4 linked regions of the Homo sapiens genome follow. The protein of the gene in region 1 purifies or fractionates together with the protein of each later gene. This does not show direct contact. Each region holds a gene or a part of one and is shown in the gene's direction. Other genes may lie near its edges.

Region 1 (4,154 bases):
GATCCTCAGAAGCTTTCCTTCCTAGGCTCACCCACCAGAGGTAATCATTAACAGTTTCTTGCATATCCTCCAGGAATGTTCTGCGCAAACACACACACACACACACACACACACACACACACACACGGACGCAAACAAATACCATCCCTCTCTCTTCTCTCTCTGTATACGTACGCATATGTTTAATTCTGCAAGTTGCTTTGTTTAAAACTCAATACCTTTTGGAGGTATTTATATATCAGCATATTCAGATACAATTTACTTTTTTTAAAAAGGGTAATATGCCATTGTATTAATATTCCATACTTTAAGTTCCTCTATCGATGGACAATTAGAATGCTTTTTTTTTTCTTGCCACACACACACAAAAATTGCTGCCAGAAATCTTTGTAGTAAATCTTTGGATATTGGTGCAAAAATAATTGTTGCATACTTTCTTAGTGGTGAAATTGCTGAATCAATCCGCTCAAGCCTCTCATATTGTCAAATTACTCCTCCTAAAAGGTTATACTAATGACATTCTCACATCATTTCCTTACATCTTGGTACACATTTGGTATTAAGCGACTTCACAAGTTTGCCAGTCTAAACACATGGAAAAAAATGGCGTCATGTTGTTTTTATTTGGGTCTCTTTATGAGTAGGGCAGCAAGACCTGATTGTTAAACGTTCAAGTTTTGAAGTTAAACTCCCTGGGTCTGGATCCTACTTCTTCCTTGTAAAATGTGTGATCTCGGGCATGCTGGGTCTACTTCCTCGTCTCAAAAAAAGAGGATAAAGAGAGTACATATCTTTAGGCTTAAACAAGATACGCAGGCATACAGGAAGCCCTTCTTATGCGTTCGCTACTAGCGGTACTGATCCTAATTTTTTTGAAGCCGTGCCGGCTCCGGTACTTTATTTTTGGTGTGCTCCTCCAACCAACCAAGTTTCGCAGAATTCTGTTGTTGCCTGTAATTAGAAATGAGACGAAAATTGGCTCCGCTTGTTCAAAATTCTCCTCCCTCCGCCCCAACTCTGCCTTAGAATCACTGGTTTAAATGTCAATGTAAAGGAATGAGTTGCAATTTTTAAGCAACATGTAAAGTGCACACCTGGTCTGAGTACCTCCCGGCGGCCAGGACCCGCCGTTTTCGGTATAGGGAACACCAGATAACAATATATAACGCTACCTAACAAACGTTTCTCCACCCACAGCGCCATTAGCGGTTAGGTTTGCAGTGCCGAAGAGCTGCAAGAAAACGGGGCTTGAAACAGGAATACAATTGCAGATCCACCCACTACACGCAAAGGGCCCGGGACGCGCCTCCACAGCCCCGCCCCAACCGGAAGTGACGCACCGCGCCGACTATTTCTTCCGCCGTCCGCCGGTGGCGAGGCCCAGGCTGTCGCCGGGTGTGCAGCGGCGTCGCGGCCAGTAGAGGGATTCTGGGTAACGGCCCGGACCCCCGGCTGGGCTTCTGGCTCGGCGCAGCAGGTTCCATTCACGCCAAGTCTGTTGGCAGTGGCAGTTGTAGGGCCAAGGGCGGTTGTAGGACCCGGAGCAGCCGGACATGGAACAACCGTGGCCGCCTCCGGGACCCTGGAGCCTCCCTCGGGCCGAGGGTGAGGCTGAGGAAGAGAGTGACTTCGACGTGTTCCCCAGTTCTCCCCGCTGCCCGCAGCTGCCAGGCGGCGGCGCCCAGGTGAGAAGGGGCCTGCGTTCTGCGGAGGGATGGAGTGGTGCTGTCGCCAAACCCCTGGAATGCCGCGTCTCCCAGACCCTCTTCTACGCCTTTTTCTACGCCCACCTCACTGCCAGGGGCCGGGGACCTGGGACCTGACGCCTGATGCCATCCCACCCCTTTTATGGCATCTTCGGAGGGCAGACGGGGTGGCCATATATTACCAACCTCCACCTCCACGCACATGTTTTCTTTCGCCTTGGCTGATTCCTGTTCACTCTTGGAATACCTTCCTCCATCTCCCCTTCCTGACAGCACTCAGATTTGGGGCGGCTCATGCTGTAACATTGACCCTTTGTCCTCTTGTGAGAGGTTTTCCCCAAGCACTTTATTCTGTTAAAGGCTCTAGCATACTTGTGCACAGTTGCTAGGAACAGTGAATGATTGTAGTTCAGCATCACACTGAGTCCTGACAAAGATTTCACATGCGATTTTCACCGATGTTGACAACTGAGTAAATTCTTTAAATCTCGCTTTTGACGCTGGCGTACACCTCTCCCATTCGCGTGACCATCTTTGCCTTACTGTTTTGTTTTTTAGTTTTGCTTCACGTCATTCTCCAGTGAAAATATATACGCATATACTTGTGTTTTCCTTCAGACTTCTCTTAGGTTCCTGGTATTGTGTTTTCAATCCAGCATTCCTGCCTTCCTGCGACTGAAACGTATCCAAATGTGATATACTATTAAGGATTTTTCAGGGACCTATCTTAGGGGATACTTACATACTCGCATCACCTTGTCCTGTTTTTTTCTCCGAATCCGTGTGTGTTTTGGAAGTATATTTCAGAATCACAGACTAAACACTAATATATTCAATGGATCATAAGTGTCTGCCGCCTTCTTGCAAAATGGGGTTCCCAAGAGTGTAACAGATTTAATAGTAGTTTTCCTCTCAACTTATTTTGCTAGATGTTAATGAGAATGAGTTAAATTGCTTACCAGTAAGCGTGACATTATCAATCTTATGTCCAGCTAACAGGGTTAGTTGGCTTCACACAGAGAAAAATGCTGTTTCATAACCACTGTCTGTACTTTGGCCAGCTAAGTCACTGGGGAACTACAAGACATTTTTTAGGAGGACAGAATGAGAGTTGATGGGTCCATCATTAGTCACCCACTAATTTTGGATCACTAGTGTCATCTTTATATACAAAATGTATTATAAGCACATGATGTGCTAGGGAGGAAAGAAGAATGAACAGCAGATGCCATTGTCAATTTTGAAGGCATATGAAGAGAAAAAAGGGTGTCAAGAATTTCAGTGCATTGTGGTTGAATTACAGAAGTAATCTAGAGAAATATCTGTATGTTAATTTCTTACTTGTGCACTTCTAAATTTGTTTAGCTGGAAGAGATTTTAGAAGTGAGTAAGCTTATCTCTCTCATTAAAAGTGTTTTCCCTGAGGCCATGTAACTAGTTAGTGGCCAGGTTAAAACTAGAACCCACTTATGACTCCTAGTCCAGTATATTTTCCCACCTACTGCACTGCCCACCAGAGTTCGAGACCAGCCTGACCAACATGGAGAAACCCTGTCTCTACCAAAAATACAAAATCAGCCTGGTGTGGTGGCGCATGCCTGTGATCCCAGCTACTCGGGAGGCTGAGGCAGGAGAATTGTTGGAGGCAAAGGTTACAGTGAGCCGAGATCACACCATTGCATTCCAGCCTGGGCAACAAGAGCGAAACTCTTGTCTCAAAAAAAAAAATTTTTTTTGCAAACTGATTATTAATTCTGAGTTCATGTGTTTATTACAAACCTACTTATTGGTCTTACTGGCTTTAAGACTTAAATTTTTGGATTGGAATATTTGGAAAAAATAAAATGTTTAATTGATTAACATTTTATAATCCTAAAAAAAGCTTTGGCTTAATTTTATCAAATAAGGGGGATCTAGACTTCTTAATGTAGTATGTGATATGTAGTTCTTAGATCCAATTAATGTAAAGGCAGATCATGTTTAATGTCCCTCTAAAACTTCTGTATGGTCATGGATTAGAATGTGACCTAATATTTTATTTAATATCTGAATACATGTTGGATAGTTTGCCCAAATGGCCAAATGTTGTCTGGGTAGTTTGTGGAGAAATAAGACATACATTATTTTTAGAATTTTTCGATTTGAGAAAAGAATATTTGCTCCCAAATAATTTGAAAATGCAAGATAATTTCTATTTATCCATATTACCATATTACTTTTCTTGATATATTATCCTTTCTCTTTTTTTTTTTTTTTTTTTGAGGCAGTGTCTTGCTGTGTTGCCCAGGCTGGAGTGCAATGGCACGATATTGGCTCACCACAGCCTCCGCCTCCCAGGCTCATGTGATTCTCCTGCCTCAGCCTCCTGAGTAGCTGGGATTACAGGTGCCCACCACTGTGCCCAGCTAATTTTTTTTTTTTTTTGAGATGGAGTCTCGCTGTGTCACC
Region 2 (3,500 bases), on another chromosome or scaffold:
TTCGATTTGCCAGTATTTTATTGAGGATTTTTGCATTGATGTTCATCAGGGATAGTATTTTGCCCTTTTTTAAATTAAGGTTTTTTACATGTTGGTTTTGTTTCATTATTGAGTTGTAAGAGTTCTCTATATGTGCATTATCAAATGTGAATTTTGCAAATATTTTCTTCCAGTCTGATTTCCCTTTATTTTCTTAATGATGTGTCTCAGACCAGGCGTAGTGGCTCACACCTGTAATCCCAGCACTTTGGGAGGATGAGGTGAGCAGATGGCTTGAGCCCAGGAGTTTGAGACCAGCCTGGGCAACATGACAAAACTCCGTCACTACAAAAAAAATACAAAAATTATCCGTGCATGGTGGCCTATGCCTGTGGTCCCAGCTATTTGAGAGGCTGAGATAGGAGGATCGCTTGAGCCCAGGTGGCCAAGGCTGCAGTGAGCCATGATACCACTGCACTCCAGCCTGGGAGAAAGAACGAGACCCTGTCTCAAAAAAAACCCCAAAAAACAGTGTGTCTTGTGAACAAAAGCTTTTGATTTCATCAAATCCAGTTGACTGTTTTTTTCTTTAATAATTTATGTTCTGTATGTCCTTTTGAGAAACATTTGCCTACCCCAGAGTTGCAAAGATTTTCTCTTACAAGTTTTATAGTTTTGACTTTTACAATTAGGTCTATGGCGGCAGGAACCGTATTTTAATGAAGGTATCATAAAGGAGAAAAGAAATATTTCTTAAATATTCCTCCTATAAACATGTAGACATTTATAGTACAAACTTTAGTACAGTTTTAAAATACTTGTATAAAACTGTGCTCAGTACTGTATTTGGAAGATTTCAACTAAGCTCCTGATCACACAAATTATATTGTCTAGGACAGGGCTACTGCCTATTTTTAAAGGTCCTCTATATATTCAATTTTAGCATGTCGATTGATACTACTTGGATGTGATTTTATAATACTCAATAAGCACTTGTTGGTTGATTATAAACGGTTTAAAGATTGGTAGTATGGATTATCTAAAACATTATTTTGATTTGTTTTTGTATATATTTTGATTGATATGTGTCTGATCTGAAAATTCAGAATACTTCAGAACAATAAATGTATAATAAAAAGTGGTTTTCTTTATTTAATGATGTTTAAGAACAATGCAATCCTATTAACCTTTATAATTTTAGATTTAGTGAATTATCTCCCTAAAACTGTTGACTTAATACTGTAATATAGTTGTACTTTTAAACATACTTTAAGAAGTCTTCATACTGTTTAATTTTTTTCTTGATTATAAGAATAATCCATATTTACAAAACATTCAAATATGAACAGGATATATAGCTTTATAAGTTTGATGTTTTCAATAGAATTTCTATTAACTGAATAAAATTACTTTTAACAGATATTCTAAGGAAATCTCAGTTTTGGATAAATTCTTGTAGCATCGTTGTAATGTTCCTACTAAATTTACATGATGAACCAATTAGATCTTTTATATGTAATATTATTTGCTGGAATATACACACACTCTGTGTGTGTGTGTGTGTGTGTGTGTGTGTGTGTATACACTGTATTTTTGCCAGGTGAGCCAGGATAGCTTCCATTCAGTACTTTGTTTTCTAGTTACATTGCAAGATAAAAATTGTGGTAATGACATTGATGAACACTGAGCAGGTTATAGTAACTTAGCAAGAGTAATGCTTTTTCTGCTTGAAGCATTAGGGCTCTAATCAAAATTAGACTGTAATTTCTTATGATTAGCCCAGTTCTTTGCACAGTAGAGATGTAATGTGATCAAGTGGAGAGGGCAACTAACATGCCTTTTGGTGATAGATTTCTTTTACCATGCCTTCAGATTTTTATAAGGCAGCTAACAGGAGGTAGTCATTTATGTTTGAATGTAATCATTTCACCTATGAGCTTGCAGCCTTCCAAAATCATCTTCCTTTTTTTTTTCTTTTTTTTTCGAGACGGAGTCTCCCTCTGCCAGGCTGGAGTGCAGTGGTGCAGTCTTGGCTCACTGCCATCTCCACCTCCCGGGTTCAAGCAGTTCTCCTGCCTCAGCCTCCCGAGTAGCTAGGACTACAGGCGCATGCCACCACACCCAGCCAATTTTTTTATTTTTGGTAGAGACCAGGTTTTACCACGTTGGCCAGGCTGGTCTCAAACTTCTGACCTCATGTGATCCGCCCGCCTCGGCCTCCCAAAGTGCTGGGATTACAGGCGTGAGCCACCAAGCCTGGCCTAAAATCTTTCTTTCATGATCCAACGTATCGTTTCTCAGAACTCTGAAAGCATATATCTAACTATGCTCGGTGTTCCTTTCTTAGCATCGCCAACACTAAGATGTCACGATTGCTTTCTTACAAACTTTTCATCCCTTCTACTTTATAAAGTAGTTCCCCTCTGTTAAGTTGGGATTGGATTTAGTGTTTCCTCTGCTTTCTGAGAGAGAAAATACCAGCGCAATTTTTCTTTTCTTTTCTTTTCTTTTTTTGAGACATAGTCGCCCTCTGTCGGCCAAACTGGAGTGCAGTGGCACAATCTTGGCTCGCTGCAACCTCTGCCTCCTGGGTTCAAGTGACTCTGGTGCCTCAGCCTCCTCAGTAGCTGGGATTACAAGCCCGCACCACCACACCTGGCTAATTTTTGTATTTTTGGTAGAGATTAGGTTTTGCCATGTTGGCCAGGCATGTCTTGAATTCCTGGCCTCAAGTGATCCACCTGCCTCGGCCTCCCAACGTGCTGGGATTACAGGCGTGAGCCACTGCGCCCGGCCCCATCACAACATTTCTAAAATTTATTAAGTTCACTGCTTTTACCTGAATTAGACTTTCCACTATTCTCTGGGCCATAGACGTTCCTAAATATATCTACTGTGTAACTGTCATTTTTCTTTCCTATGTCTTTCCAATTGTTTCAAATTTATTCCTGTAGTTAGATATAATCCCTGCTTAGCATGGTGGCCTGAATATAGTTGGTATTCAGTATTTTTACATCGATATATTTATTAAACATTGTGGTCAGTTAAGGATTACAGCGATCTAAAAGTTTAATGCATATCCTTGAGCTTATGTTCTTGATGGAGAGGTAAGACTAACACATGAAAGAATTTGAGAATAGTCTCCTGTGGCAAAGATAATGTTTACAGAATATAAACATTCTGTTATAGAAAAATCTTTGTTGATTGTGAAAATGAAATGGGCCTGTGGGGAAAGTAAAAGTTAAGTTTGACCCTCCAGAGTGGGTAAAATTTTGAATAAATAGTAACTTTATTATTTGGCTATATTTAGACTCTTTATCCTGAGTAAGGAAAGGAAAAGGAAGTACAGGTGAAGGAAAGATAATAGCTCTTGTATTTTTTCATGTTTAAAACATCATCTGGGAACATGACACTCCCTGCTTACCATCATCTGCTTACCATATAATAGGGTGTTTCCACTGGGGTAGTTGCAAAAATACAATATGACATTTCAGCCTCTTGTGGTACTCTACAAGGAAGCA
Region 3 (3,500 bases), on another chromosome or scaffold:
CACAAGGACTAAAATATGGAAGTATGGAGTCCTTCTCAGGCTGTATTTAGTTTGCTTTAACAGATCAATATTTCTGAAAGTATGGTCCCCAGACCAGCAGTGTCATCATCACCTGGTTGTTAAAAATGCAAATTCTCGGGCCCCACCAATGATCTACTAAATCAGAAAATCTAGGGGTAGTGCCCAGGAGTCTGTTTTAACAAGACCTCCAGAGGTTCTGGTGTACCCTACAGTTTAAGAATCACTGAAAAAGATATAAATTGGCAGCTTGGTTTTATACTTGACATATCATGATGAACATCCTTACAAGTCAGTAGATAAAACCAGATGTCTCTATTTCTTTTCCTTTATTCTTTATGCATATATACACATATATAATTGTGCATTAACAGGATCATTTTAGAAATGTTTTGGGGTTTCTTATTGCAGCCTGTTTTGTTTTACTTGTCTTCACTCTTCCCCTTCCCCAATGCCACCTCCTCCCCTCAAGCAACTCGTGTTAACAACTTAGCATATGCCATTCTGTATTTTCCCCATTCTTATCTAGCACATAAAACACACCCTTAGAGGCTAGACTTTAGATTGTCTGCTTTAAGAAAAATGGGATTATATTTTATACATTACTCTGCTTATCAGTTTCTCTTCCAAAAATACCCCATGAAACTGTTTCCAAGGTAACTGTTTTAGCTCTAAATCTTTCTTTGTAATGGCTGCATGATGTTTCATGTATGGATACACCATGATTTATTCATTCATCTCAATATTGCTGGCATTATGAATAAAGCATAATAAATTAATATTTTTATGTATACACATATATATGTATATATATATACACACACACATATATATGTGTATATATATATACACACACACATATATATGTGTATATATATATATACACACACATATACCCTGATGTATTTATTTCTATAGTATATTCTCCTAAGACAAGATAGCCAGGTTGAAAGTACATTTCTCATGTTAAAAAATGTTTCCATTGCATTTCAAAAAAAAGGATTTAAATTTTACATTTCCACTAATTGTGTATGATAAGGGCTTTCTCCCCCATACTGCTATCAGCTATAGGTGTTATCATTTGATTAAACTTTTGCCAATCTGATAGGAGCAAAGTGGGAACCCATTTTTCCTCTTCTGTCTGCTTAATTGATATTTTTTAAAAATAGACACATTCCATTTGGTGAGGAGCTGCAAGTTCCACAGCATGCTTTTGATCCTTACTTCACTTCAGTGGACCTCTCCATAACTCACTTCATAAAGGGAGCAGTATTTTCCCTTTAAAGCATAATGAGAGTGGGCCCTCTTAAAATTCCTGTTTAGAGAAATCTAGAAATCTAGATTATCTCTTCTGCGTGAGCTGAAAGTCGGACAGTGCATCTTATATTATTCATATGTAACCTGCCTCACTCCCCAGTTCTCTCTAGAGCCTCCATTTTCAGAACCTTTCTTTCTGCCTTCTTCTGCTCCACCCATTCCCCTGTTTATTTTAAACCTCCAGTATTTCCTTTAAAAAATGATTTTAAACTAAGCTTGGAAAACAGAATGCATTCTGTTGCAACAACATTTGTTGATAACACTTTAGGGCTTTAGCAGGTGAGGTATGATGCTGGAAGCCCAATGGCCTCATTGACTGAGTGCAAACTAGAGTAGGAGGGACCCCAGTTCTTCAAACTGGATACCTCTCCCAGTACAGGGCTCTGCCTATCCACTTCCCATCCACTAGCACCTAAAGCAACCTATAGCAGAGAGAAGCCCTGTGGGCCCTGGCAGATCCTCATAGAATTGTGAGGAACTCTGGCTTCCCTTCCAAAGTCCAGGAGTCCAGGGAGCATCCTGACCTCCCTGGCGTTTTTTGAGAGGAGTGTCACTCACTAAAGAAGATTTTGGAAGCCTGGGGGCCCAGCAGCAACCACGTATCAGAGCCTACCTGTCTGGTTCTTGAGCTCTGGAAGTGGGAGATTAGAGTCCATCAACAGCTTACAAAGACTGGAGTCCCCGTGGGTGCACCGCTGGGTCTTCCTCTCATCCAGTTGGTGTTTCTGCTGGTTTCTGTCCTAGCATTACAGCTACCCTAGGAACCCACTGCAGGAGGAAAATAAGACAGTTGAAGGTGTCACAGATGTAGGGATCCAAGTAGTGATTCACTTTAACAACTTGCATTTGATTGCTTAGAATGTATGTAATATGCAATATATATGCAATACCGCTCCTCATTCTGAGGGTGTTTAATGTTTCCCTTCACCAAAATGCAGCATCTAGACCGGCTTATGAATCTTCCGCTGCATTCCGTGAAGATGGAACCTTGTTATACTAAAGTCAACCTGCTTCACGAGCGCCTGCAGGATCTCAAGAGCCGCTTCAGATTCCCCCACATTGATCTGGTGGTTCAGAGGACACAGAACTACATGCAGGAGGTGGGTGTGGCAGGGGCATCCGTGGTGGATGAGGGTAAAGAGAGAGCAGAGAAATGGGTGCTGGCCAGTGAGACCAGCTGCTAGTGTAGCTCAGGGAAATACGTCGCGTCTCTTTAGCCATCATGTTGCGGGAGGACACGTTCTGTCCCTCCACTGGCTTCATCTTCCATCCATGTGGATGAACATCATAGACAAGACATAGCTCAGAAAAATAAAGTAGCATTAATTGATAACTACTTGATTTGTCAAATCAGTGCTGTAACCTTGGCTACACATTGGAATCACCTGGGGGAAATACTGATGTCCAGGCTGGCGTGCAGTGGCATGATCTTGGCTCACTGCATGCAACCTTTGCCTCCCGGGTTCAAGTGATTGTCTTGCCTCAACTTCCTGAGTAGCTGGGACTACAGGCATGTGCCACCATGTCTGGCTAATTTTTGTATTTTTAGTAGAGATGGGGTTTTTACTGTGTTGGCCAGGCTGGTCTCAAACTCTTGACCTCAAGTGAACTGCCCACCTCGGCCTCCCAAAGTGCTGGGATTACAGGCATAAGCCACCACACCCAGCCTATATGGCTACTTTTTGATAGAACTTCCCTACCCTGATTCCTACTGTTTCTAATATGCAGCCAGGATTGAGAGCCACTGGCTTAAATTAATTCCCTAACGTAATTAAGAGTAAACCAATCAATCAATCACAGCTTCATATTTGAATTTCTTGAGTCTACTTGACAGGTTTCTTTTTTTTTTTTTTCATAAGGAACCTTTTCCCCAGTAACAGGAATGAATAGCACAAACTCCTTCCGTATTATAGTGTTTCCTAAATGAATAAGGGGTACGGTCACCAAAGCTCTAAAGGACACCATGCCATTTCACACAGATATTCTGAGGAGAGATTACTGTGGGCCGGACACTGTACCAGATCCCACTTCAGGGAGCTTGAGTGAGACAAATTCTTAGATAAATTCACTACAATGTTGAAGGTATGATAAAGGTATATATTGTGGCCAGGCACAGTGGCTCACGCCTGTAATCCCAGCATTTTGGGAGACCGAGGCGGGTGGAT
Region 4 (3,500 bases), on another chromosome or scaffold:
AACCCCCATGCTGAGTAAAAGTTGTGAGGATAGGGATTTTTTTTCTTTGTTGTATCTTGAATCCTTAGAACAGTGCGTGTAGAATGAATGATAGAATTTGAAAGTACAGAAAGTACAGATGGTTCCGAACTTACCATGGTGTAACTTAAGATTTTTTTGACTTAACAATGGTATTATCAGGCTATAACCACATTGTAAGCAAAGGAGCATCTGCCTGTATTAGCAGGATTTGCTAATGGATTCGATGTGAAGGGAATTCAAGCATCTGGGTGATTGGTGACACCATTAACCAACAAGGTGAAAATGGGGTGGGGGCAGGTTTATACTTTTTCCTCATGTTAAATTTTAGATCACTTAAGGAATGGAGATACAATTGTATTTACATGTATATGAGGTAGAAGTAGTAGATAAAAGGGAATTAGTAATTACTGGATTGGGGAAGGCAGTGCAAATGGTAGGGTAATAGAGGAAGATCAAGGAGAAGGTATCAGATGTGTTTTGAAAAGTGAATGACAGGGAAAACAGAGAAAGGGTATTTCAAGCGTAAGTAATAGCACAAGTATAGAGAAAATTATGTAATGGTACAAATTTGCTGCTGTGGAATTGAGATTAATAGAGATAAGTAGACCTGGCCAGATCCTAAAAGGGTTTAGTGATGCAGGGAAGTTAGATTGTACGTTAGAGTGTGGAGGCCATTGAAATTGAAGAATTTTTTAGTCTTTTTCATTGAAATATAACATTGAAGTTTGTTAAAGGATATACAAATATAAATTTGTAGCTCAAGGGATTTTCACAAAATTAAACACACCAGCAATGCAGAGCACTCCTTATGTGTTTTCTCATTCATTATCTTCCTCAAATGTTTTTCTGTCAGTCAACATATGTTTTTTCTGTTTCTGAGTTTAATGTAAAAATAACCATAGAATATGTACTTGTTTTTGTCGTCTTCTGCATAATAATGCTTGTTTTATTTATCTTTGTTGCATGTAGCTTTAGTTTTGTTTTTTTATTTCTTTAAGGTATGTCATTATTTGAATGTGCCACAACTAATTTCTACTTTATATTGTCCTTTAATTTTAAAAAATTGTTTTTAATAATGCTATTATGAACATTCTTTTTGAGATGGAGTTTCACTCTTGTAACCCACCCTGGAGTACAATGGTAGGCTCTCGGCTCACTACAACCTCCGCCTCCCGGGTTCAAGCGATTCTTCTGTTTCAGCCTCCTGAGTAGCTGGGTTTACAGGTGCCCACCACGCCTGACTAATTTTTGTATTTTTACTAGAGACAAGGTTTCACCATGTTGGCCAGGCTGGTCTCAAACTCCTGAACCTCAGGTGATCCACCCGCCTCGGCCTCCCAAAGTGCTGGAATTACAGGCGTGAAGCCACCGCAGCCGGCCTATTATGAACATTCTTGTGCATGACTTTTGTGACACATATACACATTTCCATTTCTAGTATTTTGGATTTTTTTTTTTAAATTTTGGCATATGTGCATTATACTTATCAGTTAGTTCAGCATCCCTAATCTGAAATGCTCCAATGAGCATTTTCTTTAACTGTCATGTTGGCTCTCAAAAAGTTAACAGATTTTTGGAGCATTTGAGATTTTGGATTAGGTATGCCCACCTGTATATCTTTAGCATTAACAGATACTTCCACATAGTTTTCCAAGGTGGTTGTATTTGTTTACGTTTCTACCAGCAGTATGTGAGGCTAGTTCAACTTGTCCTATGGTTTCTTAACATTTTGTTATACGAGTTTTTTTTGTTTTTTTTTTTTTTTTTGTATTTTAACCATTCTAGTGTGTGTATAGTGTTTTGTCATGGTTTTGATTTGTACTTCCCTAATGATGACTGCTTTTTTGTATGTTTATTAGCCATTTGTATATCCTCTTGTGAAGTGTGCAGAATCTTTTACCTATCTCTAATGTCTCTTGCTTACCAGTTTGTAAGAATTCTTTATATATTTTAGCTGTGACTCTTATCAGAAATTCTATGCTTTTTCACTGTCTTAATGACGACTTTGATAAACTTTTTATCAAATTGCTTTTTAACAAAATCCAATTTGTCCATCATTTTGTTTATGACTAGTGCTTTCCATGTTCTATTTAAGAAATCGTTGCTTACTTCAGGGCTGTGAGTGTTTTCTCATATGGAGGCACATTTAAATATGTAAATGACCTGGAACTGATTATTGTATAAGGTGTGACATGGATGTAATTAAAGAACTTTAAACAAAAGGGTGATAGTAATTTGATAATTAGTAGAAAATAGAAGTCGAAGGCTGAGAAATAGTAGAAACCTGTTAGTATAGTCTGATTGCTTAAAATCTGCTAGCTTATGAGGAAGATTAACAAATTAATATATTCAAGTCAAATTGATGAGATTTCATTATAGACTGCCTATGGGTGGAGGGAGAGGAGATGCTGAAGAGGAACGAATGGATTTTGCTTTGAGAAACTGAGTCTGTACGGTGCCATCAAATAATATGGGGAAAAGAATGGACTGTGGGGGCAATAGCATTAAGTTTAGTAGATGCTAACATACTGAGTTTTATGTTCTTGTGAAATATCTTAAGGAGAAATACACATCTAATACTGTACTTTGGATTTATAAAAGATAAACACAGAATTTTATTTTCTGTTTGTAGGTAGTGCTATAAATACAAAAATAGAAAATATACTACTGGCTACATCCATGTTTTATTAACATAATTTTTTGTGAATTCATCTGTAGAGCCTCCATCTACAGCAGCAATGGGGCCCGGATCTTCCAGACAAACCCTGGATATATATATAGGTCTGCAGCTCATTTTACCCTTTATAGGGATAAGAAATCACCATCACTCTAGAACTTCCAGAATTGCTTATTAGATTTCTCATATTATTTGACAATACTTACATGGAGTTTACTGTACACATAAGTCATGCAGTAACTGTATTTTTATTGAGAGTATTAATCCCTTGGTTTCAACATTGTTTTTGAAATTAGTAACTAAGTAAGTACTTGAATATGATTGGATGGGATCTCATACTCAAAAGGCTGAAAGCATCTTAATATGACTTTCTCAAAGGAACCTAAAACTTAACCAAGTCCAAAAGGGAATCATTTTTCATTTTTTAACAGAATGGCGTGGGATGGATTTATGAATTTTCTAGGTAATTGTCATTTAAGTATTTTGCAAAGTTCGTAGAGGTCACCAATACTGCAAATATGTATGAGATGTAACTGTAAGATACGCAGCTAATTTTTTTTCTCTTTGTTTCCTTTTTAGACATACCAGGGTCTAGAGAGTCTAGAAGAAGTCTGTGTATATCATTCTGGAGTACCTATTTTCCATGAGGGGTAACTTATGCATGACTTATTAAAATAGTTTATGGTAGAATTTAGAAAGTTAAACCTTTCTGTCTTTAAACATTGTTTGCCATGCAGTGTTATTAGGCATTTTACTTACATTGCCATTAACATCTTCACAATAGCCTACACAAACACAGGGG

Evidence for each region. The genes of interacting proteins can lie anywhere in the genome.
Region 2: the proteins of CDC37L1 (region 1) and RELCH fractionate together in Homo sapiens (co-fractionation; one large-scale study listed by BioGRID). This does not show direct contact.
Region 3: the proteins of CDC37L1 (region 1) and NIBAN1 fractionate together in Homo sapiens (co-fractionation; one large-scale study listed by BioGRID). This does not show direct contact.
Region 4: the proteins of CDC37L1 (region 1) and CHORDC1 purify together in Homo sapiens (affinity purification with mass spectrometry; one study listed by BioGRID and IntAct). This does not show direct contact.

The regions. Positions count from the first base shown.
Region 1 is NC_000009.12:4,678,215-4,682,368, forward strand, and holds the start of CDC37L1 (hsp90 co-chaperone Cdc37-like 1), read left to right. Parts: upstream 1-1,354; 5' UTR 1,355-1,553; coding exon 1,554-1,685; intron 1,686-4,154. UniProt on the Homo sapiens protein: Co-chaperone that binds to numerous proteins and promotes their interaction with Hsp70 and Hsp90.
Region 2 is NC_000018.10:62,193,755-62,197,254, forward strand, and holds part of RELCH (RAB11-binding protein RELCH), read left to right. Parts: intron 1-3,500. UniProt on the Homo sapiens protein: Regulates intracellular cholesterol distribution from recycling endosomes to the trans-Golgi network through interactions with RAB11 and OSBP.
Region 3 is NC_000001.11:184,807,009-184,810,508, reverse strand, and holds part of NIBAN1 (protein Niban 1), read left to right. Parts: intron 1-2,273; coding exon 2,274-2,435; intron 2,436-3,500. UniProt on the Homo sapiens protein: Regulates phosphorylation of a number of proteins involved in translation regulation including EIF2A, EIF4EBP1 and RPS6KB1. May be involved in the endoplasmic reticulum stress response.
Region 4 is NC_000011.10:90,206,050-90,209,549, reverse strand, and holds part of CHORDC1 (cysteine and histidine-rich domain-containing protein 1), read left to right. Parts: intron 1-2,739; coding exon of another isoform or gene 2,740-2,802; intron 2,803-3,277; coding exon 3,278-3,348; exon of another isoform or gene 3,349-3,349; intron 3,350-3,500. UniProt on the Homo sapiens protein: Regulates centrosome duplication, probably by inhibiting the kinase activity of ROCK2. Proposed to act as co-chaperone for HSP90. May play a role in the regulation of NOD1 via a HSP90 chaperone complex. In vitro, has intrinsic chaperone activity.